Linked DNA regions of Homo sapiens: region 1 is linked to region 2. Evidence: fine-mapped expression QTL. A gene starts in region 2. The other region holds a variant in brackets. All regions are shown on one strand. Distances are between the middles of the regions.

Evidence for each region. PIP is the estimated chance that this variant, and not a neighbour inherited with it, causes the effect. A credible set is the group of variants that fine-mapping cannot tell apart.
Region 1: its variant is the best candidate, but not a certain one, in a credible set for the expression of RICTOR in fibroblasts (GTEx, PIP 0.87).

The regions. Positions count from the first base shown.
Region 1 is chr5:39,161,916-39,177,743 of GRCh38, reverse strand. The region is part of intron 2 of FYB1 (FYN binding protein 1); the gene reads left to right. It also overlaps the pseudogene GOLGA5P1. Among named protein-coding and RNA genes, the nearest start is that of FYB1, 50 kb to the left of the region's middle. RefSeq lists enhancers at 694-773, 804-863. The variant GA/A (reference allele first, on the strand shown) is at 8,381.
Region 2 is chr5:39,066,626-39,082,453 of GRCh38, reverse strand. RICTOR (RPTOR independent companion of MTOR complex 2) reads left to right here and starts at 8,055. Exons shown (of 38, transcript NM_152756.5): 1 at 8,055-8,125; 2 at 8,296-8,343. The coding sequence starts at 8,077. RefSeq lists enhancers at 5,207-5,306, 7,643-8,169, 8,696-9,222 and a silencer at 7,858-8,757.

The sequences.
Region 1 (15,828 bases), 95 kb before region 2:
AGGACGTGAAAAAGAAAATGAAGAGAGTTACAGATTTTGTTGGTGCCATTTCATATATAAAATGTTGAGGCTCAAAAGTTTGAAGTAAAACAATGGCAAATTTTGTAAAACTCACTGTGGGAAAAAATAGTTTTGCATTCTAAATGATTCTATGACAATCAGTAGTTTGAGCACAATACGTTGTAGAGAACTTAATCAGCCTGCAGTTATTACATTGAGCAATGTGGTTAGGTTTAATGTCAAGAGATTCAGTCCTGGGCCCAACTCTGTCAGCTTTGGGAGACCTGGGACAAATAACTTCTTTGACCACCTTCTCATTTTGCAAAATGTGAAGGTTGAATTAGACCACCCCTGAGATACCTTCTAGCTCTATAGCTCTGTGAATTTAAAGGAACAGGTAGGTTACGGACTTCTTTGGTTTGTTAGTTACCCCAAGGAAATAGAGTCCTCTCTAGGTAGCAGGCGCACAATAGTAAGAAGGCAGCAACAGAAACAATAAACTTTGGAGGTTAGCCACAGCCCTCAGGAAACAAGATAGGTGTCTAGCCTCCAGCCTGTGGGGCCACTGCATGATGTTACTAAATTCAGGATGGTACTGAAATAAGTGTGAGCTACCAATGCCTGGAAATAATGAAAGCCATCAAAAAGTTATATTCTACTGTTGCCAGGACAAAAGTTCCTGAGATAGTCTACATCTTTCAAAGTCAGAAACAACATACAGGAGAATGAGGATAACTGCCTTCCTCCCACACACCCATGATGCCTAATTGAAATTGTAACCCCCCAGTCTCTGGAAATTAGGCTGGCCTCTTTCCTTTCTGTTTTTGCTCCTGCCTATCAAGATGAAACCTAGTTGTGGTTTTACCAGTGCATTTCTTTTAGCTGCCTACACCATCTCAATTAAAATGGGCTTGAGGAGCCACACCAAATAACTAGCACATGAAATAACTTCACTCAGAAAATCAGGAAGTTGTGTTGCTATTTTTATTTTACTTTTAACAAAAAGCCTCATTTCTGAAAAACTAATGTTTTCGTCTTTGTTTCCTTTCCCACAATTTATGACTGTTTTGAGAGACAAACAGCATTTATCTTTTTAAAGATTGGCACTTTTAAAGAAACACCAGTCAGAATAATCAAGAAATGAAGACCAATCATATGATCATCCAAAGTTGCAGGTTGTTAAATGTTTCATTGTTTTATTTCAAAGTATAGATTATCTTTTGTTAATGATTGTAATAGCAGCAGTGTGCCTTTCTAAACATGTTGTTCTTAAGCAAATATAAAAATGACTTGGGGCCTGGCATGGTGGCTCATGCCTGTAATCTCAGCACTTTGGAAGGCCGAAGCGAGTGAATCACCTGGGGTCAGGAGTTCGAGACCAGCCTGGCCAACTGGTGAAACCCTGTATCTACTAAAAATGCAAAAATGAGCTGGGCCTGGTGGTGCGCACCTGTAATCCCAGCTACTCGGGAGGCTGAGGCAGGAGAATCACTTGAACCCAGGAGGTGGGGGTTGCAGTAAGCCAAGATCGCGCCATTGCACTCCAGTCTGGGCGACAGAGTGAGACTCTGTCTTTAAAAAAAAAAAAAAAAAAAAAAAAAAAAAACAGAAAAAAAATGACTTGGGATTCTCTGAACACAAGACAACAAATATGAAGAGGCCACTGTGGGGCACTAGAATGAGTTCCCGTAGAAGGGAGGCTGTATTTGAGGAGAGCTGATCTGTGCTCTGTACCGGCCCCTGGAGCACATAATCCTTCTGGATCTCAGCTATAAAATGAGTGATTCCATATTCTTGAATGTCACTGATGTCTGGGACACACTATTCCTTATCCATTAGAATTCTCCTATCATAGGAATTTTAGACTCCCTGACCTTGAGCCCCTAAGAAGCCAGTAGCATTCACTAGGTTATTCACTATTGTAATGACCAAAAGCAACCCCTTCCCCCAACACCAGCACTCAATTCCAAACACTTCCTTGAAAGCTGGTACTGCCTACCCCCATTTGGAGGCACCAGCCAATGAGTTCTGAGATTCCTTTCTGCCCAGCATTCTTTAAGGAGTGGCCAGGAAGAATACTGGGTAGTTAGGAGCCTGCAGTTTAAAATCTCTCAGAAACATTCCACACAGCATGTACCCGCATGAAAAGGGCATATAAATTGTTGAGCCTATTATTAAATTACACAGCAGCGTTTCTACCTGCTTTCACAGCAAGTTTTGTCACTTCTCTTTTATAAGTCCCAGAAGAAGGCAGAGGTTTTCCCCAATGAGTCAAAAGAAGCCCCCAGCTAGTTACAACCATTGGACACCGGCATACTCCAGCCCATGTGAGTCACTTTCTTGATAGAATGGTGTCAACTCAATCCAACAATGTTCACCGCTTATATCAGAGTCATCAATCAACCGGAGTCTTCTCCAAACCCTGTCTCCCTGTCTGATAGATGTCTAACCCAGTTGCTGTTGTCAAACTCCCTACGCCTACCAACTGGGCTCCTTCTTTGACATATTCTTGGTTTCTCCTTAAAGAAGGTTGAATAGCCAATGTAGTGTCTGCCTGGCTGGATCTCCATTCTGTTCTCTTTTCCTACCTCATGCCCCTTTTCCCTTTCCCCAGCTTAGAGACTTGACTATCAGCAATTCCCCTCCTCCTTATTGTTTATTTGTCAATCTTGCTTACTCCTAAATAATCATCCCACCACAAACGCACACACACAGGTAAGAGCAAGCAAACAAATAGAACCATAACTTTTAAAAAATTTTACAGTACTCCTCATCACAAAGAAAAGCTGAGACACTGGTTTCTCTATGGGAGAAGAGGTCTCCCTGCTTCTGTTCGCCCTTAGTCTATTAGTTGTTGACTTTGCATTTTGCCTAGTCTCTTCTTAGCTTCCTCTTTCATCTTAGAGAGTAACATGTACCTTTTCAGTTATTTCACCATTGAGATGCTGAAAACACTAACAAAAATAAGATGCTTATGTTTTATCTTTTTAAGGTTTTTAAACAAACTAAAAAGAGAGAAAGAGCTTATTTTGATTTCATGGCATGATAGAAAGAACTTCAGACTTAAAGAAGAAAAACAGGATTTTAGTCCGGGAGCTCATGTTTTTAAGCTTTGTGTCCTTGAGTAAATCATTTATTAAACTTATCTGGACCTTGGATTTTTCATCTTTGATAAAAAGGGAGAGTGTTTTTCAGGGTTTCCTTATGCTATGTCATCCCTAAGTCTAAATGATATTCTTATTCCATGTGTTAAAGTCCTGTGCAGAACCAGGAAGATGGCTTCACAAATAATCAACTGGTTTGTTTATGCCAAATTATATAAAAAGCACTGGAACAGTAAATTCAAAGACTTTCAGTCCTAGGGTTTTATGGTTCTATCTCTAGGAACAGAAATTCTGATTCCTTGGTCATTTGTTCTATAAGTGATATAGGATAGGCCCAAAAGGGATTCTATGTACAGAAATCAGTAGCATTTTTATATACCAACAACATTCTAGCAGAGAACCAAATCAAGAACACAATCCCATTTACAATAGCTACAAAGAAAATAAAATACCTAGGAATTCATCTAACCAAGGAAGTCAAAGACCTCTTCAAGGAGAACCACAAAACACTGCTGAAAGAAATCAGAGACCACACAAATAAATGGAAAAAATGTTCTATGCTCATGGATTGGAAGAATTGATATCATTAAAATGGCCATACTGCCTGCCCAAAGCAATTTACAGATTCAATGCTATCACTATCAAAATGCCAATGTCATTTTTCACAGAATTAGAAAAATCTATTCTAAAATTCATCTGGAATCAAAAAAAAGACTGAATAGACAAAGCAATACTAAGCAGGAAGAACTAAGCCAAAGGCATCTTACTGCCTGACTTTAGACTATACTATAAGGTTACAGTAACCCAAAGAGCATGATACTGGTACAAAAACAGACATATAGACCAGCTGAACAGAATAAAGAACCCAGAAATGAACCTACACTTCTACAAACTATCTGATCTTTGACAAAACTGACAAAAATAAGCAATGGAGAAAGGACTCCCTTTTCAATAAATGATACTGAGATAAATGGCTAGCCACATGCAGAAAAATAAAACTGGACACCTGCCTCTCAGCATATACAAAAATTAACTCAAGTGGGTTAAAGATTTAAATATAAGATCTCAAACTATAAAAATCCTAGAAGAAAACCTAGAAACTACCCTTCTCAACATAGGCTTTGGTAAATAATTTATGGATAAGTCCCCATAAGTCCCCAAAAGCAATTGCAGCAGTAACAAAAACAGACAAGTGAGACCTAATTAAAGAGCCTCTGCACAGCAAAGGAAATTTCCAACAGAGTAAACAGCCTAAAGAATGGGAGAAAATGTTCAGAAACTATGCATCTGACAAAGGTCTAATATCCAGAATCTACAAGGAGCTTAAATCAACAAGCAAAAAATCTAATTAAAAAATGGGCAAAGAACATGAACAGACACTTCTTAAAAGAAGTTGTACAAGTGGCCGATAAACAAATGAAAAAATGCTCAACATCGCTAATCATCAAAGAAATGCAAATCAAAACCATAATGAGAAACGATCTCACACCAATCAGAATGGCTACTATTAAAATAATCAAAAAACAACAGATGCTGAAAAGGCTGCAGAGAAAAGGGAGCACTTATAAATTGTTGGTGGGAATGTAAGGTAGTTCAGCCACGGTGGAAAGTAGCTTGGAGACTCCTCAAAGTATGTAGAACACAACTACCATTCAACCCAGCAATCCCTACTACTGGGTATATACCGAAAGGAAAATAATTCATTCTGTCTAAAAGACACATGCACTTGTAGGTTCATTGCAGCTCTATTCACAATAGCAAAGACATGCAATTAACCTAGGTGCCCATCAACAGTGGATTGGATAAAGAAAATATGGTATATATACACCATGGAATACTATGCAGCAACAAAAAAGAATGAAGTCATGTCCTTTGCAGCAACATGGATGGAACTGAAGGTCACTATCCTAAGCGAACTAACACATGAACAGAAAACCAAATGCCTTATGTTCTCACTTATAAGTAAGAGCTAAACACTGAATACACATGAATGTAAAGATGAGAACAATAGACCCTGGGGACCACTAGACACAGGAGGGAGGGAGGAAGGTGTGGGCTCAAGAACCACCTGTTGGTTGAGTGATGAGATCACTGGGACCCCAAGCCTCAGTGTCACACAATACACCCATGTAACAAACCTGCATGTGTACCCTCTAATCTAGAATTAAAGTTGAAATTACTATTTTTTTTTTTTGAGATGGAGTCTTGCTCTGTCGCCCATCCTAGCATGGAGTGGCATGATCTCGGCTCACTGCAACCTCTGCCTCTCAGGTTCAAGTGATTCTCCTGCCTCAGCCTCCCAAGTAGCTGGGATTACAGGTGCACACCACTATGCCTGGCTGATTTTTGTATATTTAGTAGAGACAGAGTTTCACCATGTTGGCCATGCTGGTCTCAAACTCCTGAGCTCAAGTGATCCACCTGCCTCGGCCTCCCAAAGTGCTGGGATTACAGGCATGAGCCACCACACCCGGCCAAAATTATTTTTTTAAAAAGGGATTCTATCCTTTCAGTGGGTCTGCTTTGTCTGATTCTGTTCCCTTTCTGTGTAGAAAATTGGTGGTTCATATTATATAAAGAATGCATTAAAGACTGCTCCTCACCATGCTGCCTTGTTTTCCCCAATCTTTTCAATATATTATTTCCTAAAGTTGACTTCTGATTCTCCTCATTATCTTTACCATCCTTCACCCCTGCTTGTCACTTCCTCGTTTGTCCAATTACAAAAGAGGTAATGCCATGGCATCTTAACAAGGCTTTTCCCACCTTACAATCCCCAGGTTCTCTTACTTCAGCAAATGTTTGGCCCACGTATGCTTTGGCTCTTGCAGAAAGGGCAAGTGATAGCCAGAAGGAACTCTCAGACAATGAAATACTAACTGAAAGTGTCAGCTGGTAGTTAACGTGGTATTATTAAGAATTGCAAACAAATAAGTTGTGTTTCAAAACAAAAGAATGGGAGGTGACGATAGTATATACCAGGCAATATTGCACTTCAGTAGTGCAATAACTTCTGAAGTTATTGGTCTTTTCACAGCCTGCCTGTTGCCTCTTTAGGTTGAACTTCAAATGAGACATGTGTACCCACCATTTATTTTATATCAGTGATTCTCAAACTTCAGTGTGCATTAGAATCACCTAGAGAGCTTATTAAAACACAGATTGCTGGGCCCCAGACCCAGAGTTTCTAATTCAGTAGGTCAGGCATGAGGCCTAAGAACTTGCATTTGTAGCAAGTTCTCAGGTGATGCTGATGCTGCGAGTCCTGATTCCACAACTTAAAAACTACTGTTCTATACTATAATAGAAGAAAATGTATAAATGCTATCTTCAGGGTTTACTTTTTTTTTTTTGGAGACAGAGTGTCTGTTGCCCAGGCTAGAGAGCAGTGGCACGATCTCGGCTCACTAGAACCTCTGCCTCCTAGGTTCAAGCAATTCTCCTGCCTCAGCCTCCCGAGTAGCTGGGATTACAGGCTTGTGCTACCACATCCAGCTAATTTTTTTGTATTTTTAGTAGAGACGGGGTTTCACCATGTTGGCCAGGCTGGTTTCAAATGCCTGACCTCATGTCACCCCTCCGCCTCAGCCTCCCAAACTGCTGGGATTACAGGTGTGAGTCACCGTGCCCAGTCTAAAAATTCTTTTAAGCAATTTACTTAAGCAGAAACATGAATGGTAATACAATAATAGGGGAAAGGAGCGTTCTGATCAGAGAGCAGGGAGTACAAATTCCTTAGGTAAGAACAAGCTTTATGGGGTTAAAGAAACAGAAAGACTTGGATGGGCTGGAATATCACAGATGAAGGAGGAATAATGGTTCCAGATGAGGCTGGAGCAGTAGGCACTGACCAAATTCCATAGATCCAGAAGGTCACAGTTTGGAATTTATGATAGGAAGACATTGAAATTGGAGCCATAATGAAGAGGAATGTTATAGTCTGGTTTGCATTTTAGGACCTCTTTTTCCTGTGTAGAGCATCAGCTGTAGGCAAATAATAATGACACCAAAAAACTGGTGAGGAGGCTACTGTTAAGAGTCCAGATAAGAGATGATGAAGTTTGCACAAGGGAGGTCAAATGGAGGAGAAAGAAATGGATGAATCTAGAATGAGTTTCAGCTGTAGCATTAATGGGGAATTCTCATGTATTGGATGTAGGGAATCAGAAAAAAGGAGGGAAGTTTACTCAGCCTGGGCCCCCTCCAGGTCTGCTGCTGAGGGGGTCCGGCCCAGGACGGCGACAAGACCACGGTGCAGCTGGCCCAGAGTCCTCAGGTTTGCCAATAGGATTATTCTGCTGCCATCATGTCTTGGTTTGTTGATCTTGCTGGAAAGACAGAAGATCTTTTAAACTGAGTTGATCAAGGGGCTGCAACAGCTCTCAGTAGGAAAGACACCACCACCAGCAACATCATATATAGCAAAAATACTGACTATACTGAACTTCACAGAAGTTCAAATACAGATTTGACATATCAGACTTGACCTGTAGCTACTTATACTTCATCAGCAACTGATAACATTTGAAATCAAAAAGCCACCATCTTAGCTGGCACTGCAAATGTGAAAGTAAGATCTAGGACACCAGTGGAGGCCTCTCATCCTATTGAAAATTCATCTGTTCCTAGGCCTTCATCCCAATTTGTGTGAACAAGAAAGTCAGAACCTGATGATGAGCTGCCCTTTAATTTCCTTAATAGTTCACAGAAGGAGCCTACTGGGAGGGTGGAAATCAAAAAGGAAAAAGGAAAGACACCTGTCTTTCAGAGTTCTTGGACGTCAAGTGTTAGTTCTGTGAACCCCAGTATAACCACCATCAAAACCACTGAAGAAAATTCTTTTGGAAAATGCATCATCAAATGCTGCCTGCACTGAGCACATCCCAACACCTAATGAAGATGGCAAATCACATGAACTATCTAACCTTCGACTGGCCCGGCTAATTTTTGTACTTTCAATAGAGACAGAGTTTCACCATGTTGGCCAGACTGGTCTCGAACTCCTGACCTCAGGTAATCCACCCGCCTCGGCCTCCCAAAGTGCTGGGATTACAGGCGTGAGCCACTGCATCTGGCCCTCCTTGGTCTTTCAACTGGAGCACCTCAAACAGCAGATGGACTCTGCCTCTGGAAGTAGTAGTAACGGGTCTTCGATTAATATGTCTGAAATTGTCAATGGTGAAGGCACTCTTCTGTGAAATGTTCCTGTTCTTTTTAATGGCACAGAAACTAATCTGGCAGGAATGTACGGAAAAATTCACAAAGCTAGTTCAATT[GA/A]CCGGTTTAGTATTCGTCTGGGAATTTTTCTCCAAAGATACCCCATAGCATGAGTTTTTGTGATTATATATATGGCTTGGCTTCACCTCTGGGTCATGATTGTTCTGTTGACTTATACACCAGAAATGCACCACGACCAACCATATGGCAAATGAACTGAGCCCAGATGTTGCAATGATTAGTTGTCTTTTTCTAAACTTGGGATCTGCAAGAAGGCCAATTGCCTAAAATTTCTGAGAATGTGCACAAGATTATTTTATCACTACAAGCTTTTAACTTTTTAAGTTATTATGCAAGTATTCTGCTACCTAAATCTTCCTATTTCCTTTAAATGGTAAGAGTTTCTAAAAGAGACAATAATTTAACAAGCTCAACTCTGCTTTTTCTGAGTTCAGTGGTCCTAATATACATGTAGAGAAAGATGCTGGTGGTGTTCACCTCTGTACAGACCATCTATATGTTAGGTGACATTGATAATGGGTTACAATCAGGGAAACTAATTGTATTTAGTGACAAAAATAAAAAGTTTCCTATTTTGATTAAAAAAAGAAAAAAGGAATTAATATGAATGATTATTACATATTCATTAATTATGTGTTCATTTCACCAATTGACTATTATGTTTGGACTTTATACACGATTATATGCACAACAGTAAATGTGACTACGGTTTTTAACTTAATTTTTATAATATAGTGACAAGATTTAAGAATTAGACTTAGAAGCTGTAAAACCTGGCATTGTTTGATATTATAGTTAGAATTATTAAGCAAAGTATACAGATTAGATAAATAAGGTGGAGGTATCTTTACATGCAATTGATAACCTAACTGTGGCAATTAGGGCAGTATAGATCAACCCAAGGTCTTTGGACATTCTCAGAAATCCACAAATTTCTTACACAATTTTTTACATTATGTTTTCATTCAGTGAAAGTCTAAAAAAAAGTTAATGGAAGAATAACTTTTTCATTAATTGTCATTAAAATACACCTTTACTTGTCTCAGGCTAACAAGTGCAGGCCAAACATTGTCATGATGAACTACAGAAACAAAGGTTTTACAGTAATTGAAAGAAGAAATGTAGTGGGAAAACTGAGTTATAATACATGACATGATAATATAGCAATGCTAAACTCAAGAGAAATATTCCTGATTACGGCACTTTAATTAAAAATGGAATATGAATGTGGGCTAAAAGTTTTTGAAAAAAATAGGCTTACTCAGCAGTTAAACACATGCTACCAATTGCAAAGGTTTATTAGCACCGTAAGAAAGTTACACAGAGACACATCTAGTTTGACTAATTTTTTTTCACTAAAATATCCATAATAAGGGAAGAGAATTAACATTTATAAAGTGTCTTTTGTGAGTTTGTGATGGGCACTGTTGTTAAATAATATAATTGTCATAACTTTATTGTGGAGTAGAATTTTTGCCTTTTTACAGAGTAAGCTGATGCCCTGGAGGATTAAGTGATTGTGCTAATGAAATTAAAAAGTGATTACAAACGTCCAGTGACGGAGAGGGTATGAGGAGACAAGACTTCATTGAGGCACATTGCTGAAGCCTCACTGGAGGACAATTGGCAGATCCTACAGGAAAATAAAATATGCAAATCTTTCATCTCAGCAATTCTACTTTTAGATCTCTGTCCTAGAACACTTCCCCCCACCACTGCCCTGCAGTTACACAGAAAAGCACAAGTAGATGCTTAACATTACATTGTTTTTAGTCAAGGGGGAAGACTGAACAAACCTGGACTATCCCTAACACAGAATACTCTGGAACATTTACAAAGAACAAGATAGGCCCAGAATAGGCAGCACAATATTCAGCATGCAGAGCAATTTAGGTTTTTAATCAGATATTCCTGTGCATACATACAAAGGTCAGTAAACACTTAGAAAAAGTTCTGCAAAGATAAACAATGGTAGTTTCTGGGAAAGAGAGGGCAAGGAGGAGTGAGAGGTCATCTGAAACTCTACTTTATCTGTGTTGTAAAGCTTCTTCCAGAAATGAGTCATGTATTATTTGTGTAATAAAAAATAACTTAAAACAAAAACAAAAACAAGGGAGAGAGAGAGAGAGACAGAGAGAGAGAGAGAACTACCCAAGATCACACCTCTAGTAGAAGCTTGATCCCCGCATCATCTCATTTCAAAACGCTCGCTCTCTCCACTGTGCCCCACTACTTCTTTGTGGCTTTTATATTTTTTTCCTTCTGTGTCTTTTCTTCTTTTAGGTTGGTGCAAAGTTAATTGCAGCTTTTACCAAAAGTAATGGCAAAAACCGCAATTACCTTTGCACCAACTTTATATATCTTTCTCTCCTCTAAAACCTGATTTATCATCTTATGTTTATGTGCTATATTTTGACTCAGGGTCCCTCCTTTCTTTTTTTATTTATATAAATTTAAGGGATAAAGTGCAGGGGTTTTTTTTCATGGATACCGTGTGTAGTAATGAAGTCTGGGCTTTTATTATAACCATCACCAGAATAGTGTACATTGTACCCATTAATTAATTTCCAATCCCTCACTCTTGCCAACCCTCCCACCCTTCCCAGTCTCCAGGGTCTATTATTTCACACTCTATGTCCGCGTCTATATTTAATTTAACTCCCACTTACAAGTGAGAACAGGTGCTTTTTGACTTTCTGTTTCTCAATTATTTCATTTAAGATAATGTCCTCTACCTCCATCCATGTTACTGCAGAAGACATAATTTTATTTTTTTATGGCTGAGTAGTATTCCACGTATACCACATTTTCTTTATCAGTGTCATCCATTTTATAAGTTTCATCCATTGATGGACACTTAGGTTGATTCTATGACTTTGCTATTGTGAATAGTACTGTGATAAACATACAAGTGCAGGTGTCTTTTTGGTAAAATGATATCTTTATTTCTTTTTTTTTTTTTTTATGAGACGGAGTTTCACCTTGTTGCCCAGACTGGAGTACAACGGCACAATCTTGGCTCACCACAACCTCCACCTCCTGGGTTCAAGCTATTCTCCTGCCTCAGCCTCCCGAGTAGCTGAGATTACAGGCACCTGCCACCAGGCCCGGATAATTTTGTATTTTTAGGACAGAAGGGGTTTCACCATGTTGGTCAGGCTGGTCTTGAACTCCTGACCTCAGGTGATCTGCTTGCCTCAGCCTCCCAAAGTGCTGGGATTAGAGGCATGAGCCACTGCTCCTGGCCGATTTCTTTTCTTTTGGTTGAATATCCAGTAGTAGGATTGCTGAATCTTACAGTAATTCCATTTTTAGTTGTTTGAGAAATTTCCATACTGTTTTCTCTAGAAGCTGTACTAATTTATATACATTCCCACCAACGGTGTATAAGCATTCCCTTTACTCGACATCCTTGCCCACATCTCTTATTATTTTATTTTTTAATAATAGCCATCCTGACTGCTGTACGATGATATCTCATTGCGGTTTTAATTTGCAATTCTCTGGTGATTAGTGATGTGGAGCACTTTTTCATATTCTTGTTGGCCACATGTGTGTCTTCTTTTGAAAAATATCTGTTCAATGTCCTTTGCCCACTTTTTAATGAAATTATTTTGGGGGTTGTGAGTTGATTGTAGATTCTGGATATGAGTCCTTTGTTGGATGCATAGCTTGCAAATGTTTTCTCCCAATCTGCAGATTGTCTGCTTATTCAGTTGATTATTTCTTTTACTGACAGAAGCTTTCTAGTTTAGTTAAATCCCATTTGTCTATTTTTGGTTTTGTTGTATTTGCTTTTGAAGTCTTAGCCATGAATTTTTGCCTAGGCTAATGACCATAAGTTTTTCCTAGGTTTTCTTTTAGTATTTTTATAGCTTCAGATCTTACATTTAAATCTTTACTCCATCTTGCATTAATTTCTTGTGTATGGTGAGAGATAGGAGCCCAGTTTCATTCTTATGCATATGGCAGTCAAATTTTCCCAGCACCATTTATTGAATAGAGTATCATTTCCCCAGTGTACATTTTTGTCGACTTTGTCAAAGATCAGTTGGCTGTGGGTATGTGGCTTTCTTTCTGGGCTCTCTATTCCATTCCATTGACCTATGTGTCTATTTTTATACCAGTGCCATGCCGTTTTGGTTGCTATAGCCTTGTCGTATAATTTGAAGACAGGTAATGTGATGGCTCCAGCTTTGTTCTTTTTGTTTAGGATTGCTTTGTCTACTCAGGGCTCTTTTTGCTTCCATATGAATTTTATGATTATTTTTTGTAAGCAATGGCAACAATAGTCATTGCCATAGCAAAAGTAGCAAATATTTAACTTAACTGAGTACCTTCTCTTGTCACATGTCTGTATATGTAGTTGTGCTTCTTACAGGTTTACTGAGTCATAGTCACTTTATCTCCCTTTGAGTCACGCTAAGAACACTTGCTCTGTCCAGGCACTACAGGGAAGCTCTGCCTTCTTTGTTGGCAATTCTAGTTCTTTCTCCAGTGCATTACAATTCTTTGCCTGGTCTAATGGTCTAATTTGTCCCTTTCAAAACTTCATAGTTTTAGCAAGGAAAAGCTTGCTTCCTGGATGAACCACACTGGTCAGGCAATTTCCTTTATTAAAATTTCTTTGCGAGGCTTTCTCTTTCTTTACTTAAAAAGGGTGTATGTCATAAATTAATGTAGCACAGGCCAGTCATGGTGGCTCACACCTGTAATCCCAGCACTTTGGGAGACTGAAGCAGGTAGTTCACGTGAGGTCAGGAGTTCGAGACCAGCCTGGTGAAATCCTGTCTCTACTAAAAATACACAATTAGCCAGGTGTGGTGGTGGTTACCTATAATCCCAGCTACTCAGGAGGCTGAGGCAGAAGAATCGCTTGAACCTGGGAAGTGGATGTTGCAGTCAGCTGAGATCACATCACTGCACTCCAACCTGGGCAACAGGGCAAAACTCCATCTCAACAACAACAACAAAAAAAGAACGTAGCCCAAAAATGTGCTGTGTTGGGTGTGCAGAGTTTTTTGTTTGATTGATTTCTTTTGTTTTAATAGTTGCCAACATTCAAAAAGTAGAGGATTTTATAGAAAAATCTAGTCTTTTTCTTCACATATTTACAGTGGGCTGGAGCCCCACAGTGGCCACCCACTGAGACAGGGCATTAGTTTCCTGTTCACCATGGTCACGTGCTCCCAGCTCAGTGCACACAGGCATGCTCCTGCCTGGCACCCACAGACAGCTGAATTTGGAGCACATGCTTTATTTCTCCTCTGTTTGCCCCTCTCTCTCCCTGAGGATGTGCTATTGCCTCTGCACATCAAGGTTTATTCCTTCTCTGCTTATAGATGTTATATTACTGGCTTATATTGATTTTATCCTAAAAGTGTTCTCAAAGGATTTCTACTGTTGATTTAGCCAAAACATTCACTATTCCCTCAAAAATTGAAAGTGTTCATCTGAGGATGTTTCTAAAACTTGATTTCTAGTGCTTTCTTTGCTCCTATAGAAGTTATTAGTACACTTTTAAAATAACTTTTCATATTTGAAGAATATTCAGTTATTGCCTTATGCCCAAATATGTTGTATCTTAGAGGAGGGAAGAGACACCCTGTAATCTATGAGCATCTGACAAAGAACTTTTCTTATATGCTGACATTTTTCCTTCTTAAAGTCACACTTAACCTTCCAAAAAAAGATCCAAAAGTCAGCAATATCCTGTCTAATTACCGCCTAATTTGAATTTCATATTATTTTATGACTGGAAAATGAATAAACTCATTTATAAAAACAATTTACCTTTCATGATTACATATAATTGAATAACCAACAAAGTTATTGGGGAGGTGAATTTTTAACTGTTGAAAAAATTATTCAGAGACATTGAATGTTAAAGTTAGATCTGAGTTGGAAGAGTTTATGACAGTGATCAAAGCCTTTCTGTACTTATTTTCCTCTCATTGATCATTAGATTTGTTTTGATCTCTACCTCTTCACCTCCATTCTAATTTCAGCTTTGATTATCTATGTAAACATTGATGTTTCAGTATTACTTTTCTTTCCACTTTGTTGGACTGTTCTAAGCTGCCTAACATTTTCTTGGCAGTTTGCATTCAAAGCAAAAGATTTCATACTAATATAATTACAGTGCTTTGTTTTCAACTAAATTGGTTTTCAAAATTTCCCATTCACAATGGTTTACAAATCCTTTGAAGATAAGAGCAGATGGCTTTGAATTAGGGCAAGGAAAAATTCCGTAAAACTAGATTTTCTAAGTCTGTGACCCAGGCGTTTCAAGTCCTTAGACTTGAAGGCTGCCGAGGATTGAAAATTTTTAATGATACTTTTACCTACATAACAATATCTACTAATATGTTTGTATTGTATATGAAACTCTGTATTATATCAAATACCAATCATAAAAGAGAATGTTCATTTTTCCAGCTATTTAATTAAATAGGATGCTGTACTTCTAATATTCTTTATAAAGAAGACATACTCACACAAATAAAATGTCTTATAAACATATGAAAGAATGCTCAGTCTCACTTATAAATATGAAAATCCAATTGATATAGCATTTATGTTTTACCTATCAGGATTATTAAGACCAAAAATGTGTGATAATATACATGCCAGTGAAGTTATGGTAAAACAGGTATTCTCCCACTTGTTTAAAAAAAAAAAAATCACTAAACGGCATTACTTACCAAAACTTTTTTTTTTTGAGATGGCGTCTCTGTTGCCCAGGCTGGAGTGCAGTGGCACCATCTCGGCTCACTGCAACCTCCGCCTCCCTGGTTCAAGCGATTCTCCTGCCTCAGCCTCCCGAGTAGCTGGGACTACAGACAAGCGCCACCACGCCTGGCTAATTTTTGTATTTTTAGTAGAGACGGGGTTTCACCATGTTGGCCAGGATGGTCTGGATCTCTTGACCTCATGATCTGCCCACCTCGGCCTCCCAAAGTGCTGGGATTACAGGTGTGAGCCACAGCACCCAGCCTACCAAAATATTTTAATGCTCAGTTCTTTTGACCTACCGATTTCACTTTCTAGGAATTTATCCTACAGGTACATTTATGCTTGCAGTCAAAGACATACATACAAGAAAAATTTTATAATTGTAATTGTCTAAAATAGCATAAAATAAGCAACAATCCAGAGTTCCTCAGAAGGTTGAATATGGAGTTACCTAGCAATTCTACTCTTGGTATTTACCCAGGAGAAATGAAAACATAGGTCCACACGAAGACATACATTAACGTTCATAGCAGCATTCTGTATAACAGGCAGAAGATAGAAACAACTTAAATGTTCATCAACTGATGAATGGATAAATAAATGTGACATATGATGAAATATGATTCAGCCATAAGATAGTAATATTAATATCTGCTACAATATAATTGAACTGCAAAAACAACTAAGTGAAAGAAACTAGTCACAAACAACCACATATTGTATGATTCTGTTGACATGAAATATCTGGAAT
Region 2 (15,828 bases):
CAATCTGTCATCATTTAGTGAATTTCTGACTAATATATCATCATTTCTGGCACAGTGTTTTTCATTTCTAAAATGCACACTTGGTTATTTTTTACAGAATACATTTCTCTCTAGAGAGTATCCATCTGTTTACTTACTGTGTCCAACATTTCTTTTAAATCTTTGATCATATTTATGAAACTCTATTAATTCCAATGTCCATGCTTTCTCTAGTCTTGGTTTTTGTTTTTTGTTTTTTGGTTTTTGGTTTTGGTTTTGTTTTGTTTCTTTTTGAGATGAAGTCTCACTCAGTTGCCTAGGCTGGAGTGCAGTGGCATGATCTCGGCTCACCGCAAGCTCCGCCTCCCAGGTTCAAGCGATTCTCCTGCCTCAGTCTTCTGAGTAGCTGGGATTACAGGCATGCATCACCACGCATAGCTAATTTTTGTATTTTTAGTAAAGACGGGGTTTCACCATGTTGGTCAGGCTGGTCTCGAACTCCTGACCTCATGATCTGCCCGCCTCGGCCTCCCAAAGTGCTGAGATTACAGGCGTGAGCCACTGTACCCGGCCTCTGGTCTTGTTTTTAATTGATTTTTTTCTCATGAGGATGAGTCACATTTTCCTCATTTTTCAAATCTCATAAAATTTTTGCTGTATGCTGAACGTTACCAATGTGATTTGTCGGAGAGTTGGAATATTGTTGTTGTATTTTTGAGTTTAGTTTTAAACCCTGTTCTTTAGTTAATTTATTGGGAGATCAGCTTGATCCTATTGGGGCTTGACTTTGAACTCTGTTTAGGTATATCTATAGCAGCCTTATTCTAGGACTGATGTATCCTTTTCGATAAGTTATGGCCTTTGTGGGATCTCAGTGCAACCCATTTCCTAACGTATAGCCTTTTGGGTGTCTTACTTGCATACTCAAAGTGTTCACCAAAGTCTCTTTACTTGCCGGTTGGATGTCTTTCAGCAATCTGCAACCTCTGGAATCTCCATTTAGTTCAGAGCCCCCAGGGGCTGTTCTTTGCCATGTTTCACTGAGTCTTACCCTATGATTGTTCAGCTTAAAATTCAGCTAAATAAGCAAAGGGATCCCAGTGCAGATTTCTGGAGCTCCTACTTTGCACAGCTCTCTCATCTCTGGTATTATGCCCCTCATCTCGACTTCAGTTTTTCTTTCCTCCATTCCGTGAGACTGCTGCTCTGTTTAGGTTCCACAAATTTTGTGTTGCATTTTCAAAGCTGGAGGGAAGGTGAAACTCACCTTTTTTGCTCCTTTTATGTCAAGGTCATAGTGCCACACTATTGTCCAGTGCCTAAACACTGCTGTTTCATATATTTGTCTAAATTAACAATTGTTTATTGTAGGAAGGTACATCCAACAATCATTATTCTATCATGGATAGAATAATAAATTCATTTGAAAAAAATTATTTAATATGGAATAGCTACTTTGTATTTTGTTTCATATCATCAATATCTGAAGTCCTTGGCATAGAATTCTGTTTATTTTGATTTATACGGATTCTTACTCATAGTCAGTTTTTTCTATGAGTTTAATGATCTTTGAATGTGAGCTTTTATTTGTTTGATCTTGATATGTGACGATCCTAGGAACTGATGAAGTAATGGACTTTCCCCAAAAAGGATTTGTAATTGCTACTGCTGAAAGCCAGGGGGCACTACCAACCTGGGTCCACTTTGGTCCACTTCTAGGATCCTGGACTTAACGCAAGAGCCTGATGTTCTGCTTTCCTACCTTGCAGTGGCTTAGTCTTCAGATCTAGATAGCTAGAGAGGACCTTTTTTCCAGTTTTCTAGTTGCTCACTGCTCCTCACTCTGACTTCAGTGTCCTATTTTGTTATTTTTTTTTTTTTGTGGAGGAATTTGGAGGAATTTTTTTAGTCCCCTACCCCTACGTGCCCCCTTCAAAAAAAAAAAAAAGAAAGAAAGAGAGAGAACAGAAAAAAGAAAAGAAATGAAATGAAAGAAAAAGGTAAACTATTAATATTTATTATACATATTAACAATGGAGCTGTCATCTTGTCAGAAGGTTAAATTGACATGAGTCATATAAGTATTCTGAGGGAAGATTGGGAGTTCTACAACTCAGAAGAATTCACAACAGACTCAGGAATTCTCTCCACTTTGGCATATGGCCATATACTTTATCTAGGTAAGTGGATTTAAGGAGGATATTATAAACTATTCCTCACAAAATGTACACACGGCTTAAGAAGAATCTTGCAAAGAAATTGTATGTAACACAAATAATAAAAGCACAGTACAGGTTTTAAAATATGGCAGACTTGATACTTCTGATTTTAGCACTTTATCAGCTTCATTACAAGGAAAAAGCAATGATAATGCAATCAGATGTCACAATGTCAGCCAACATTTTTTAAAATTAAAAATATTAGAATTATGTGAAATATGAATTTATATGCATTATCCTTCACTATTATCTGAGTCTAATTATATATTGCTCCTTGAGATGTCAGCTATTATAAAGCTACCAGATTAGCAAAATATTTTTAACATAAACAGAAAATAAAGATAATTTTCTGTATTTTTTCTGTGATGTTAGAAGTCATGCAATATTGAATCCATTACTTTGCAAAAAGACAGATTTTTTTCTTTTTTCTCAAGGTAGGGTCTTGCTTTACTACCCAGGCTGAAGTGCAGTGGTGTGATCATAGCTCAATGCAGCCTTGAAAAATCTGAGCTCAAGTGAGCCTCCCACCTCAGCCTCCCAAATAGCTGAGATTACAAGAGCATGACGTCATGCTAGATAACTTATTATTATTATTATTATTACTATTTTAGTAGAGACGAGATTTGCTACGTTGCCTAGGCTAGTCTGGAATTCTTGGGCTCAAAGGATCCTCCTGCCCCAGCCTCCCGTACTGCTGGGATTACAAGCATGAGCCACCCTGTCCTGTGAAAAGAGAAAGATTTCTTATTAGCAACAGACAAAAAGGAACATATCAGTTGGGAATATAGTGCTATTTCCTACTGTGGTTAAAAAAATGGCTGGGAATAAAAAAAAAAAAACAGAGAAAAATATTTGTTGACAAAACTAAAACGCAAACCTATTGGTCAACCAAAGCAGAAAAAGGGGTGGGGCAGGGGAAGGCTGAAGATTTGAAGAAAAAGGCATTTGAACAAATAAGCATTATGAACAAGCTTTGCTGTGTGTGCAGTTGAATGAAAGAATAAATATTTCTAACTATGTCTTAGCTTACGGTGTTGGCTTAATTCTGTTAAGCTTTTTTCTGTGCCATCAAAGTAAAAGTACCAAATACCAGGTGTCCTTATCAGTAAACAACTTCCTTAATAAGAACAATGTTTTATGAAAATCGATGAAGCAGTTCCCATCAATTTAAAAAGGAGTTCATACAGAAGTACAGAGATAGTACCACATGTGATAATTTTGTATAAATAAGACTTTTTAAAAAGTTTAATTTTCACACACTTTGAAATGAGAGGTGAAGAAAATCTTTTGTATTATACAGGTGTTTACTATTTATTTAGTGGCAAGCTTTTTTTTCATGATGACTGGTGGCTTCGAGTAGCATGTTACCTATCAGATTTTTTAAAAAAAATTAAAAAAAAATTTCCCTTCAAGGTAGATGTGATAACAATAACTAAGAAATTTAATACTTCCAAAAAACCTGTGCTAGGATGAGAGCATTTAGAAAACAGATATTTGAAAGTGTTTCAGTTTTGTGATTTTTTTCTGAAAAAACTTAAAATATAAATGTGTCACATATATAAATTTTCATATCTGCACACTTGAAAATCATGGGAACAGAGTTTCCCAATCTGCTTCAAAATCTTTCAGATAAATGGTTTTGCAACCATTTTGCTGAAAATTTCTAAATGTTATGTCTTCTAGTTTGATAGGAAAACTGATTGACATTAGGCAAGATGAATATTTGTTAGCCAAATTACTAGTTTGATAGGAAAACTGATTGACATTAGGGAAGATGGATATTTGTTAGCCAAATTACATTTCAAAAAGCTTTTGTATCACTGGGTGGACGAAATGGGAAAATGAGTTTTATGGTTTAGAAATGCGGCCAATACAGTAGTTCTTCCATTTTTAACTTTGCATTTTGTGAGGTCTCAGCTATTAAAACCCTATACCCACATAAACTCTTCTTAGAACTAGACTTTTAAATTTCAGTATCACAAAGTATATAACAAGAAATGTCGAGAATAATGAAGTATATTCAGCCCCATTGCTTTGTATTCGTGTCATTAGTAAAATAACATTAAAAATTACTTTTAACCATTTTTATTTTGTGTTTATGTTTTAAGTTCTAATTTAATTTAAAAAGTGAATATATATGTATTGCAGTGTATGTGCAAAAGTTCTTTTTTTAATGAACAGATGCACAAATAATTTTGATTGTTTATAATGACCTGTTAAGTAAGTCATTATTATAATCAACTGTTTATAATTTTGGTTTAGAATAGCCAACAAAATTTTTCTAAAATAGTTTTCCTAAAAAAATTCATGAGTAAAAATTTGTTTGGGAACAAGTAAAATGAGAAAACGGGAGAGAAAAATCACTCCAAATTCTACCATCTGTAGATAATAACTGTTGAAATTTTACTGCATACCCTTCTAGATTTCATTTTTTAACATATCTTCATCTTCCATAAACATAGGTTTATTCTTCATTTAAAACTGTTAGTCATAGAGAGTCTCTTTAAAGAATTATTTAAAAGGAAATTTATATGAGATTTTGGGACAGAGATTAAAATTTAAAGACACAATACTCAGGGGCTCTGTTCTGCTGTGACCAAGACATAATTAACACTGGATGGGATTGTAACATTTGTTAAATTTAATTCATTGCTTGTCGTGTAAATGGCCTTTAGATGTCTCAAATGTGCGGTTTAACTATGAAGTTACCAAGAAATAGTCTGACCAAATTTTGTGGCTTTTTACTTGCTTTATCTTCAAATGGCCTATGTACCAAGGCAGAGAGATTAAAGGGAACTAAGATTTTGATAAGGCTTTTGTTTCTGTTCAGTATTACAACTGTATCCCAAACCGATAAAATATGGTTTACATACTAGAATTATTACTAGAATTCTAGTTATATACTAGAATTATTAACTGCATGCAGGAGGGTAGAGAATAGAACCAAGGGAGTGACTATGAATGGAGTAATTGTATCCTCAGAATTAAGCAGTTATCTTCCAAAGGTATGGTCCTGGACTCGATCTTCTTATAGAACATTTTTTATCAATGACTAATACTACCAGAAAAAAAAAAACAGTCACTGACACAGCAAATGAAACCTAGCTGGGAAACGAAAACTAAGAAGAGGAAGTCACATTCTCAATGACCAGATTAGAATCAAAATAAAAATTGGAGAAGTAGTAAGAAGTAAACAAAATGAGTAAGTCATATGGGTCGGCTAAAAGATGCAAGGAAGAAAAAGAAGTTTCAAAAGGAGGAATAGCTAGCAATTGGCAAGTATCAAAGAAGAAAATTTAGGGGTTTTAACAAGTATCAATCTGACTATAAACAATAAAGTAGTGCTACTGTTTAAAAAGCAAACACATTATAAAATGTATTCCTTACTAAAATTTATCTAAACTTCTGCTTCCTAGTTGAGTGTCACTTGCAAACACTAATAACTTGTTCCTTTTCACCAGACCTGCCATTCACTCTAAGAGCAAATATGGAGAACCTAACCACTCAAACGACTGAAATAGTAACAGAGAAAAAACTAGTTTCGATGAAAGATTGAATGTAATTTTTTCTCCTGCAAGAAATAGAGTAATTGAATAATTGTCTTTAATAGCATACAGTTATAATGATTAAAATACTACTGGATTTAGGCACTTATGTACCTCAAGTAACTTAAAAGTAGATTAGTTGTACTCAACTTTCATAAAACACCGAGAGAAAATGAAGTTAAATTGTATTAGGAAGGAGTTAATGTAGAATATAGAGGGATTTTATAATATGATAAAAGATTTGTTGAAAATCAGAACAACTGTAAGAATCTGGTATAATTTCTACTGATAGATCTCTACTTTTCTTTAAGGGTGAAATGTGGTGATACATGGAGGGTTGAAATCCAACCCTCTGCCAGACCTCAAGTTTTGTGATTTTTGTTTTAGGCAGTAACTAGAATAAATAAATTGCACCAAGATTTTTAAAGCTATAACGGAGGGAGCACGCTTGTTGACATTAAAACTACTACTGGTAATGCCAGAAGACATTTCTTTAAAGTACTGTAATTGTGTTACATCCTTAAATCTAAGTGCAGTATCAGCCGCAGATATCTGATTGTAGACTTGGTTTAAAAAAAAAAAAAGAACTGGAATATATAGATAATTGGCAATATTCTAAGGAAGCAGTGTTCCTATTTTATTTTCCAGATGATGCTACTTTATGTTCCTTTTATTTTTCTTCTTACCACTTATTTTACAAATGACATATATTAACTATAGGATATTTAAAAAGTAGAGACAAGCAAACAAGAACAAAAAAGTGCACGTGTAATTCCACAAATGAGGGGAGAAAATCAGCTAACATTTTCATGTATATTTTCAGACTTTTTTCAACATACATGTACATATAAAATATTTTATAATGTATATTTTTAATTTCGTACATATTTAAACTTTTATTATAAAACAGGAAATTTGTAATATTTTGCTTGATTTAATATCATGAACATTATTTCCTATTACTAAGTCTACCTCTTCACTTTTAATCGTTGACATAATTTACATAATCCCTACCTTTGGTCATTTAAGTGTTTCCAAATGTTCACTCTTATTAACAACTTCAACAAATATCCCCAATATTGCTTTTTTTTTCTTTTTTAAAGTAAGCAGAGAATTGGAATAAATTAGAAATCCAGGGCACTTACTCATCCAACAGATATTTATTGAATACTTATTTGTGCCAGATATTGCATTAACTGGGAGCTGGGAAAACAGAACTGGTTAAGGCTAGATCTCCACTTTTAATTAACTTTCAGTCTCATGGAATAGAAAGATGAGCTGAGGAACTGGAGAGGACAAATCGCTCCTCTCTTTAAAGTAAATGTAGTTCAAGAGAAAGCTGCTGGGTCAGTGGCCAGGTGTGTGTGTGTGTGTGTGTGTGTGTGTGTGTGTGTGTGTGTGTGTGTGTGTGTGTGTGTGTGTGTGTACACATACGTATTAACTAAGCAGTTTCTAGAATTAAAATCCCTAATGTTAATAGGCTTATGCATAAAATAGATTAATCCACAACACCTGCATGAGCCACGATCCTAGGAGCTGCAGAGCCATAAAAGCCGGACACAGTACCCAGCAGCCTCGCCTCGGCTCCCGGCAGAGAACACCCTCTCCCCGGCCTCCCGGCGCTGGCGCGATCCCACCGCGGGGACCGCCGCCCTGGTCCCCGGCCGCTGCACCCCCTTCTCGCGTCCTACGCCTGGCGGCCAAAAACAAAACTGCCTAACCACTTCCACTTGGAGAAGCCCTCCTAGCCGAGAGGGGCATTCTGAAGATCAAGGGCGAGGCTGGAAAACAAACTTTGTTACGTGTTAACTTAGTTGGAGCAAAGCGATTCCAGGAAAGGAGTCTAAAACTGTGCGCAGCGTTTTTATAAAAAAATGTTTCAGTGGATACACGGGGGAGCGGGGCCGTCTATGGCAGGGCTTCAGAGCAAGCAGGAGACTGGCAGGCCGGCGAGAGCAGGTGGCCCGCCGGCCGCATCCCGGCCTCCTCCTCCCCGCTCGCCTGCATTTGGACGACGGCTTCCGCGGCGGCCGGAGGGGAGCATCCTCTACACTGCCAACTCGCATCAATGGGACTTTCCTCGTGGGAACTGCCCCTCCCGGCGGACGTGCCCTCCGGGTCCGGCGTGGGCGGGCGGGTGCCGCGAACTCCTTGCAGACCTTGGGTCGGCTCAGTGCTCCCTCAGCGCTGGGGCCGAGCCTGCACCACCCGCCGCCGTCGCCGCCGAGGGGGCGGGGGAGGTGCCGCGGGGGGCGGGCGCGGCGCGCGGGGAGGGGAAGGGGTTCTCGCGCGATTGGGCGAGGTTTCCGGTGTTGTGACTGAAACCCGTCAATATGGCGGCGATCGGCCGCGGCCGCTCTCTGAAGAACCTCCGAGTACGAGGTAAGCCCGCTGCAACCCTCACTCCCCACCGCCCGGCGCCCGCCACCCCTGGCACTTGCCTTCCCCTGGCCCTGGGTTGGGGAGCGAGCCGGGGCGCTGGCCGGAGCCAGGGCAGCCGCAGCTGGCCTGCGAGCCAATCCTAATTGGGGCTGTGTGTCTGTTTCGCGCAGGGCGGAATGACAGCGGCGAGGAGAACGTCCCGCTGGATCTGACCCGAGGTAACGCGGGGCGCCGCGGGCGCCGCGAGGGCGCGCTGCTGGGGAGGAGCCGGGTCCGGGGCTGGGGGCCAGAGGCAGGGGCGGGCCCCGCACGGGACCGGCGGGGTGCGGGGGCCAGAGCCGGAGCCCCGCCTGCCGGCCCGCGGGAACCGAGCCCGGGGCCGCCTCGCCGGACCCATCCCCCTACCCAGCGCCCGCTTCCCTCGCCCGAGCCCTTCTCCGGGCCTCGGGCTGCTGCGGGTGCGGGGGAGCCCCGAGTGGAACTCGGCAGACCCGGCGACCCTCTGGGCTCGAGCTCCGGCAGAGTGGTTTGCACCTATCCCGGAGTCCGGCAGCCCAAGCTAGGGGCAGCTGGAGGGAGGTAGAGGCTGTTATTTAGGTTGCAGGAGGATGTTTGAGGGAAGAGCGACCACATCCTGCCCTCCCCGTCCCCGGAGCAGAAGCCGGACCTGCTCGGTGCTTGCCGACTGCGTGACTGCTTTCCCCTTTGCCCACCGTCCTGTGGGGACCCGCAGCATTGATAACTTGGTAGTGAAACCTAGAACTGGTCATTACTGCTAAATGTCTGGTTTATGCTGTTTCCCTTCTGCTTCCCTTTCCCGGGCCGCTGGGACTGTAGTTGGCTAAAGACCGCCCCCTCACCCTGCTGCAGGTTCATTGTTTACCTTCTGCAGTGGAGATGGGTTTGTTTACACCTTCCGAACTGGGGAAACTCGGGTGATATTTTTAATGACCTAATCCCGTTACTAGCCAGTGTTTCCTCTATCACTTACAGTACTAGAGTTTATTCGACATTATCTCGTTGAAGATTTAGTAGTTACGTACAAGATTCTTTTCTCTTCCACGGTAAACAGGATTGAGCCTACTGATTCCGACGAAGTCATATTTCACACGGGCTGTAGCTTGGAGTGTAACCCGGTTCAGCTGTACAGAATCAGTTTCTGAGGTCTATAAAACACCTTAGGAAGTAAACAAAAAAACTTGTTGTAGACATTCTGTATGAGATCAGTTTTTTACCCTATGTCGTACCTGACGTAATGACTGTTATCTACAGTAATTTGTTAAAGCTGGGCTCCTTGTTGACAACGGCTAGAGTGAAAGCATAGTGCATTTTCTAATTTGTTTTATTTTGCTTATCACGATGTAAGATTACTGTTTTATAAACTGAATGGTCAGCTTTCACTTAGCTACAAGAGTACATTTTTATAACTTAATATTTTATTCTGAAAGTTCAGGGACTTAGTTTTGGGTGAACTAGGTCCTTTTACAAGACAGTTTCTAAAATATAATACAATATAGTAGAGCTTAAATCCTGAAAATGGCTACTAATTAGATTATCAATGCACTAATTTCCACCATTTTTTTCAGCAGATCGGTTTTGAGAATTAGTATAGAAAGATGTAAAGCTTTTGACTTCTGTGCAACTGTTTGGAAACTTGACTATAACACACATGTGAAAAATCTATATAAAATAGATTCACTAGAAAACTTCCTAACAAGGATAACTTCTACAATTTCAGGTCTGTAAAAGATGTAATTAGTGAGTGATTTAATTTATATACAGGCATATGTGTTTTAGATGAAGGTGAAGGGAGCCCTTAATAAACTTGAGTTTAACTTGTGCATTAAAAACCTGCTCAGATGTGGTGCTGGAAATATATAGTTGTATTTTAAATTGAGTTCGTCGAGCTCCTATATATAGTGGTTTCTCTGCTTGGTGTCAAAAATGTTGAGTTGTGGAAGAGCTTAGGTACACATCTGATTTGATAATTTTGGCTTACTCCAGTTTTACTGAGGCACACAGGTAACTGTTTACTATTTAAAATGCCATATTAACTGAGAATTTAGTAAGCACCTATGTCCATAGGTATTTCCAGGTTAATATAGATAGTGCAGAAAATGCTGTTTTCGGCTTGCCCTGACAAAATGTACTTCAGTTTGGAATAAAGTATACACAGCCATTTAAAACTGATTGCAAAAATAAAGAGTGAGGGATTGTTTGAGATCTGTATTTCTAAATCATAAGGAAGTTTGGAATTAATCTGAATCAGTCATTTTATAGTGATACTATTGTTTTAAAAAGTTGCTGTTGTGACAGACATTTCATTGTTCAAAGAAGGCTTGAAGAAAATTCATGAGGAATTAAAGTTTAGTAATAATTTGAGAACTGTGAGGCAGTTTGGGTTGCAGCTGAAGGGCAGCTGTTTGTGGATTAGATTACAGTATGTAAAAAGATAAAGTTTGGGCAACCAAAAATTTTTTTGTTTAATGCCAAGGCAGTGTTTGCTTTTATTCTTATTTTTTAAATTTAATCTTTGAGAGATTCATTGTGTAGTTACCTAATAAAGCTCATTATAAAATAGAGGACATGGTCATTGTAATCCCTAAAGGATCCATCAATGTGTAGTGAAAAGAGAGTTGACTATAAAGTCAAATCATTCTGGATTGTAACCTCAGCTGTGAGATTTAATAGTTGGGTGATTTGGGGCAAGTTATTTGACCTTGCTTTACCCCTGATTTCTTCATTTCTAAAATAAGAGATAACTTCAAAGGGTTAAGAATGTGAAAAGTAAATGAGCTAGTTCTTAATTAAAGTACTTGGCATAAGACCGGATACTTTGTAAGTGATATTTAACATTAGTTGCCTTCCTACATTGTGAAATCACAGTTTTAAAACTCACATTAAAAATACTTTAAACGGTTGTTTTGAATATTATAAACTTGTTAATAAGGAATTATGGTATTCGAGCTTCTTTTTTTTTTGAAACATACTGTTATACTAATTGGGTATAGTCTATCTGAGTTAGAGTTCTTGAATATAACAATTGTAAAGCAATCTGTGACATTACCAATAAATTAAGTCTAAGCGAAGTGCAGTATGTTATATTCACTTAGGATAAAATGTGATACTGTATTTCATAGAACCTTAGAATTTTTGTCTCTGACACCAGGACATTTCATACTATTTAATAATGACTTGGCTAGCCTTGCAAGCTTCTTGAGGCTCAGAAGAATTCTAAGTTTCGTTGGTTTTGGTACTTGTGTTAGTGCTGTGGTTCATACATAGAGTGCCTCAGTTAAAAATTGTTGATGGATTAATTTTTATCTAGTTTAGGAACTTCATTATAGTAGACTTTACAGTCAGCGTATTGGTAATGGTTGCTCTGAGTTTTGTTCAGACAACTACTTAATTTGTGAAAGTCCCCAATATTTGCTAATGATATTATTAAATACTGTCTGTAATGCATGCCAAAATGTATTTTGAAGCCCAAATGCTTCCTCTCGCCATTTGTACTGCAAGGATAGACTGTCTTATCAGTCCAGTAGTGCATCTCTTTACTGGTACTGAATCACTTGAAAAGATACAGTGTTCTTCCTGGGTAAACCCCTCCTGGTATACTTTAATTATTGTGTTCAAAGTGAATTCCCAGAATATGGACACACTAGTTCAAATATAATTATTAGAATATAATTTATTTAAAAGTATAGTTGAATTTTATAATTTTTGATTAACTCCTTTACGTTTCCACTAAGAACTAAAAAACTGACTCTCTTGGTTGCTGTCTAATACCTAGAAAAGCAGAAAGGTTCCAAAATGATGTAGATTTGAACTCTAACTTTTTTTTTTTTTATTTGAGACGGAGTCTCGCTCTGTCGCCCAGGCCGGACTGCGGACTGCAGTGGCGCAATCTCGGCTCACTGCAAGCTCCGCTTCCCGGGTTCACGCCATTCTCCTGCCTCAGCCTCCCGAGTAGCTGGGACTACAGGCGCCCGCCACCGCGCCCGGCTAATTTTTTGTATTTTTTTTTAGTAGAGACGGGGTTTCACCTTGTTAGCCAGGATGGTCTCGATCTCCTGACCTCATGATCCACCCGCCTCGGCCTCCCAAAGTGCTGGGATTACAGGCGTGAGCCACCGCACCCGGCCCTGAACTCTAACTTTTTATTTTCCAGTTTCTTCTGGTTAGGAGTTTTCTCATTTGTTTAATCATTCAGTTAGACAAAATGGACATTGACTGAACATTTATATACCAGATGCTGAATTAACTGCTGGAAGAATAAAAATGAGGAAACTCTTTCCCCCTTTTAAGGGTTTCATTGGAATAGACATAAGGAAATGATTGCAGGTGGAAAAATAAATTAAGTAATCAAACTATATAGGAAACAGAGGTAACCCAATAGTAGCCAGAGGAGAGAATGATTAACTGTCTGGTGGGTAAAAGGATCAGAGAAGTCTCATAGAGGGGTTGACTTCTTAAAAGAATAATGGTGGACATAGTGGAAGGAAATATGTGCTCTCTTGGGAATATACCATACCCTGGGAAGGGGAAAGTTAGGAAGCAGAGGAGCTGCCTAGGGTGCTGCTGATATAATCTGACGGATGATAGAAGACTGGACCATGGCGTTGGCTACAGAAATGAAGTCAAATACATATTAAAATGGAAGAATTATCTAATTTGCTTTCTTCAGATTTCAGACTGATTTTGTAGTCCCCCCACTCTATGCAGTGAATTTTATTTCTTTATTAAAATGTAGAGGCTGCCCATCCAGTGTGAATTCCTCAATTGTCTGCCCAGACTTACTGTCTTTACCCTGATTCAAAGAATAAAGCGTTGCTATTCTTTTCCAAGGGTAACTTGGAAAAACGTTTATGCTTCTAATACTGTTTCCTCAAGATTCTTTGTAGAACTAAGATCTTCTCTTCATTTCTCCCTTACAGTTGGCTCAGTTTTCTCATGTTCAGCAAGCAATTTTTATGTTCTTCACATGGACCAGGTACTATGTTAGGCATGGGCTGAAAGTGGGAGATATGGAATGATAACGACAATATTACAAAAACTTTTTTTTGAAGGCTCTACAGACAGAATAGTTTGTCTTCACTCCACAACTTTATTGCTTAACAAAGTCTTGTAAGCAAAACTCTCCCTCTGTACTGAAAATAATTTCTTAAAAGATGCTAGTAACCTCTTGCAAAATTTATGGGCATTTTTAAGTTCCACATTCTACTATTATACATACTATTACTATAATACTAGTTTTGTGCCAGGCACTGATTTCATTATTTTACTTAATATTCAGCTGTTTTAGCTACACTTATTGTCTCTGTTTTACAGTTGAGAATATAGGCTTTGAAATTTTAAAGGGCTAAAACTCAAACAGGTAACTTAACCAGTGTCACAGGGCTTAGTGAGTGACTGGTATGTGTCTGATAATCATCTCAGAGTTGTGATGTGTAAAACTTTGCACCCCAAAGTGTACCCACTTTTCACATTCTAGGTATTTCCGCCATCCTCTGTTATTCAAGCTAGAGATCTGCTGCTTATCCTCTTTGTTGTATTGCTAAACTCCTCTGATTAGCTTCTGAAATAGCTGTTGAATTCAGTCTCTCCTTCTGTTCCCATTGTCAGTTCATATCCTCATTATGTCATCGTGTGGCAGTAATATCTTCTCACCTTTTTTCACTCGGTCTACTGTATGCCTGCCAGGATTATTTCCCAGAAATCTAGATCTGATCTTGTTGTTCTCTTAAATAAAAAAACAAAACAAAACACATACACACATTTTCTAGGCTAATTTTTGCTCACAGAATACAGTCCACATTTCTTTAGTTTGGCATTCAAGGCCTTTTTTGATTTACTCCCATATGGTTTTCTTCTGTACTATTTTAACCATACACATCTCAATATATCTGCCTCTCTGCATAGTTCACTTCATTACATACAGTCCTTCTCAGAGAGGATTGGGGAGAGTTTGCCAGTCTAAAGCACCAACCCCCATTCCACCTCTTTCTCCGTGGAGACTGTATGCCCCTACTTGAGAATCTTTCAGTCAAAGAAGAATGTTTGCTATTCCTTGAACATGGCATGTAGTTTAATATTCGCTTGACCTTGCGTAGGTATTTCCTTTGCCTTGAATTGCATTTCCAGCACAGTTTATCTATAGAAGTCCTAATTCTTTAAGGTTGAGGTCACATGCCATTTCTGGAGATCTTTCCTTATCCCAGTGGGAATTTATTGCTTCCTTCTCTGCTTTTTTACGTCTTTATTTATTATTTTCTAAATTGCAGTTACCATTGTCTTACTTTAGTTCTTTGTCCAGTTTCTTCCCCCTTCACTAGATCTTTAGCTTCTTGAGGGCAGGAGGCCTGTTTTACCCATTTTTAACATCCGCTTCCCCCAGCATCCATCAGATAATCACTGAGGCATTAATTGACTGGAAGAAGGGAGTGAGAGACATGGGAAAAAGAATAGTACAGTATTAAGGAGATTAGAAGGAAAAGAGTACTTTAAGATTACTGTCCTAAGGGACAATGAAATTGATGGTGCCATAAAATGGAGAAGTCATTTTGGGAAGGATGATAATGAGTTCAGCTTTGCACCTTGAATTTCACGTGATTATATAAATGTGTAAAAGGTGGCAGCAAATACTGGAATGGAGGTTTTAGTTGCCCTGAATTTCTAGTCTGATTGTTCTGTGTGTAAGATGTTGAGAAAAGGGATATAAATGGAAAAAGAGCTGAAGATTTGAATGTATGAAAATAGATAAGATGATGAGGGTGTATATCATAGGGTAGGAATCAATAAGAAGAAAGGAGTCAATAGAAGAGAAGAGAGAAAATTGTGATCTCTTAAGCTAAAACAGTTTGGATATTTGTCCCCACCCAAATCTCATGTTGAATTGTAATCCCCAATGCTGGAGGTGGGGCTTGGTGGGAGGTGTTTGGGCCATGGGAATGGATCCCTGATGGCTTGGTGTTGTTTTTGCAATAGTGAGTTCTGGCAAGATCTGGTTGTTTAAAAGTGTGCACCTACCCTCTTACTCTTTCTCACTCCTACTTTGCCATGTGAGATGCCTACTCCTGCTTCACCTTCCATCTTGAGCAGAAACACCCTGAGGCCTCCCGAGAAGCAGATGCTGGCACCATGCTTCCTGTACAGCCTACAGAACCAATAGCCAATTAAACCTCTTTTAAATTACCCAGGCTCAGATGCTTCTTTATAGCAGTGCAAGAACAGCCTATTACAGAAAATTGGTAAGTGGGCGTGGAGCATTGCTCTAAAGATACCTGAAAATATGGAAGCAGCTTTGAAACTGGGTAACAGGCAGAGGTTGGAAGAGTTTGGAGGACTCAGAAGACAGGAAAATGAGGGAAAGTTTGGAACTTCTTAGAGACTGGTTGAATGGTTGTGACCAAAATGCTGGTAGTGATACGGACAATGAAGTCCATGATGATGAGGTCTCAGGTGGAAATGAAGAACTTAGTAGGAACTGGAGCAAAGGTCACCCTCATTATGCTTTAGCAAAGCACTTGGTTGCATTCTGTTCATTCTGTAGGGACCTGTGGAAGTTTGAACTTGAGAGTGATGACCTCTGGTATCTGGCGGAAGAAATGTCTAAGCAGCAAAGTGTTCAAGATGTGTCCTGGATGCTGCTAACAGCCCATGCTAAGATGTAGGAGCAAAGAAATGACTTAAAGTTGGAATTT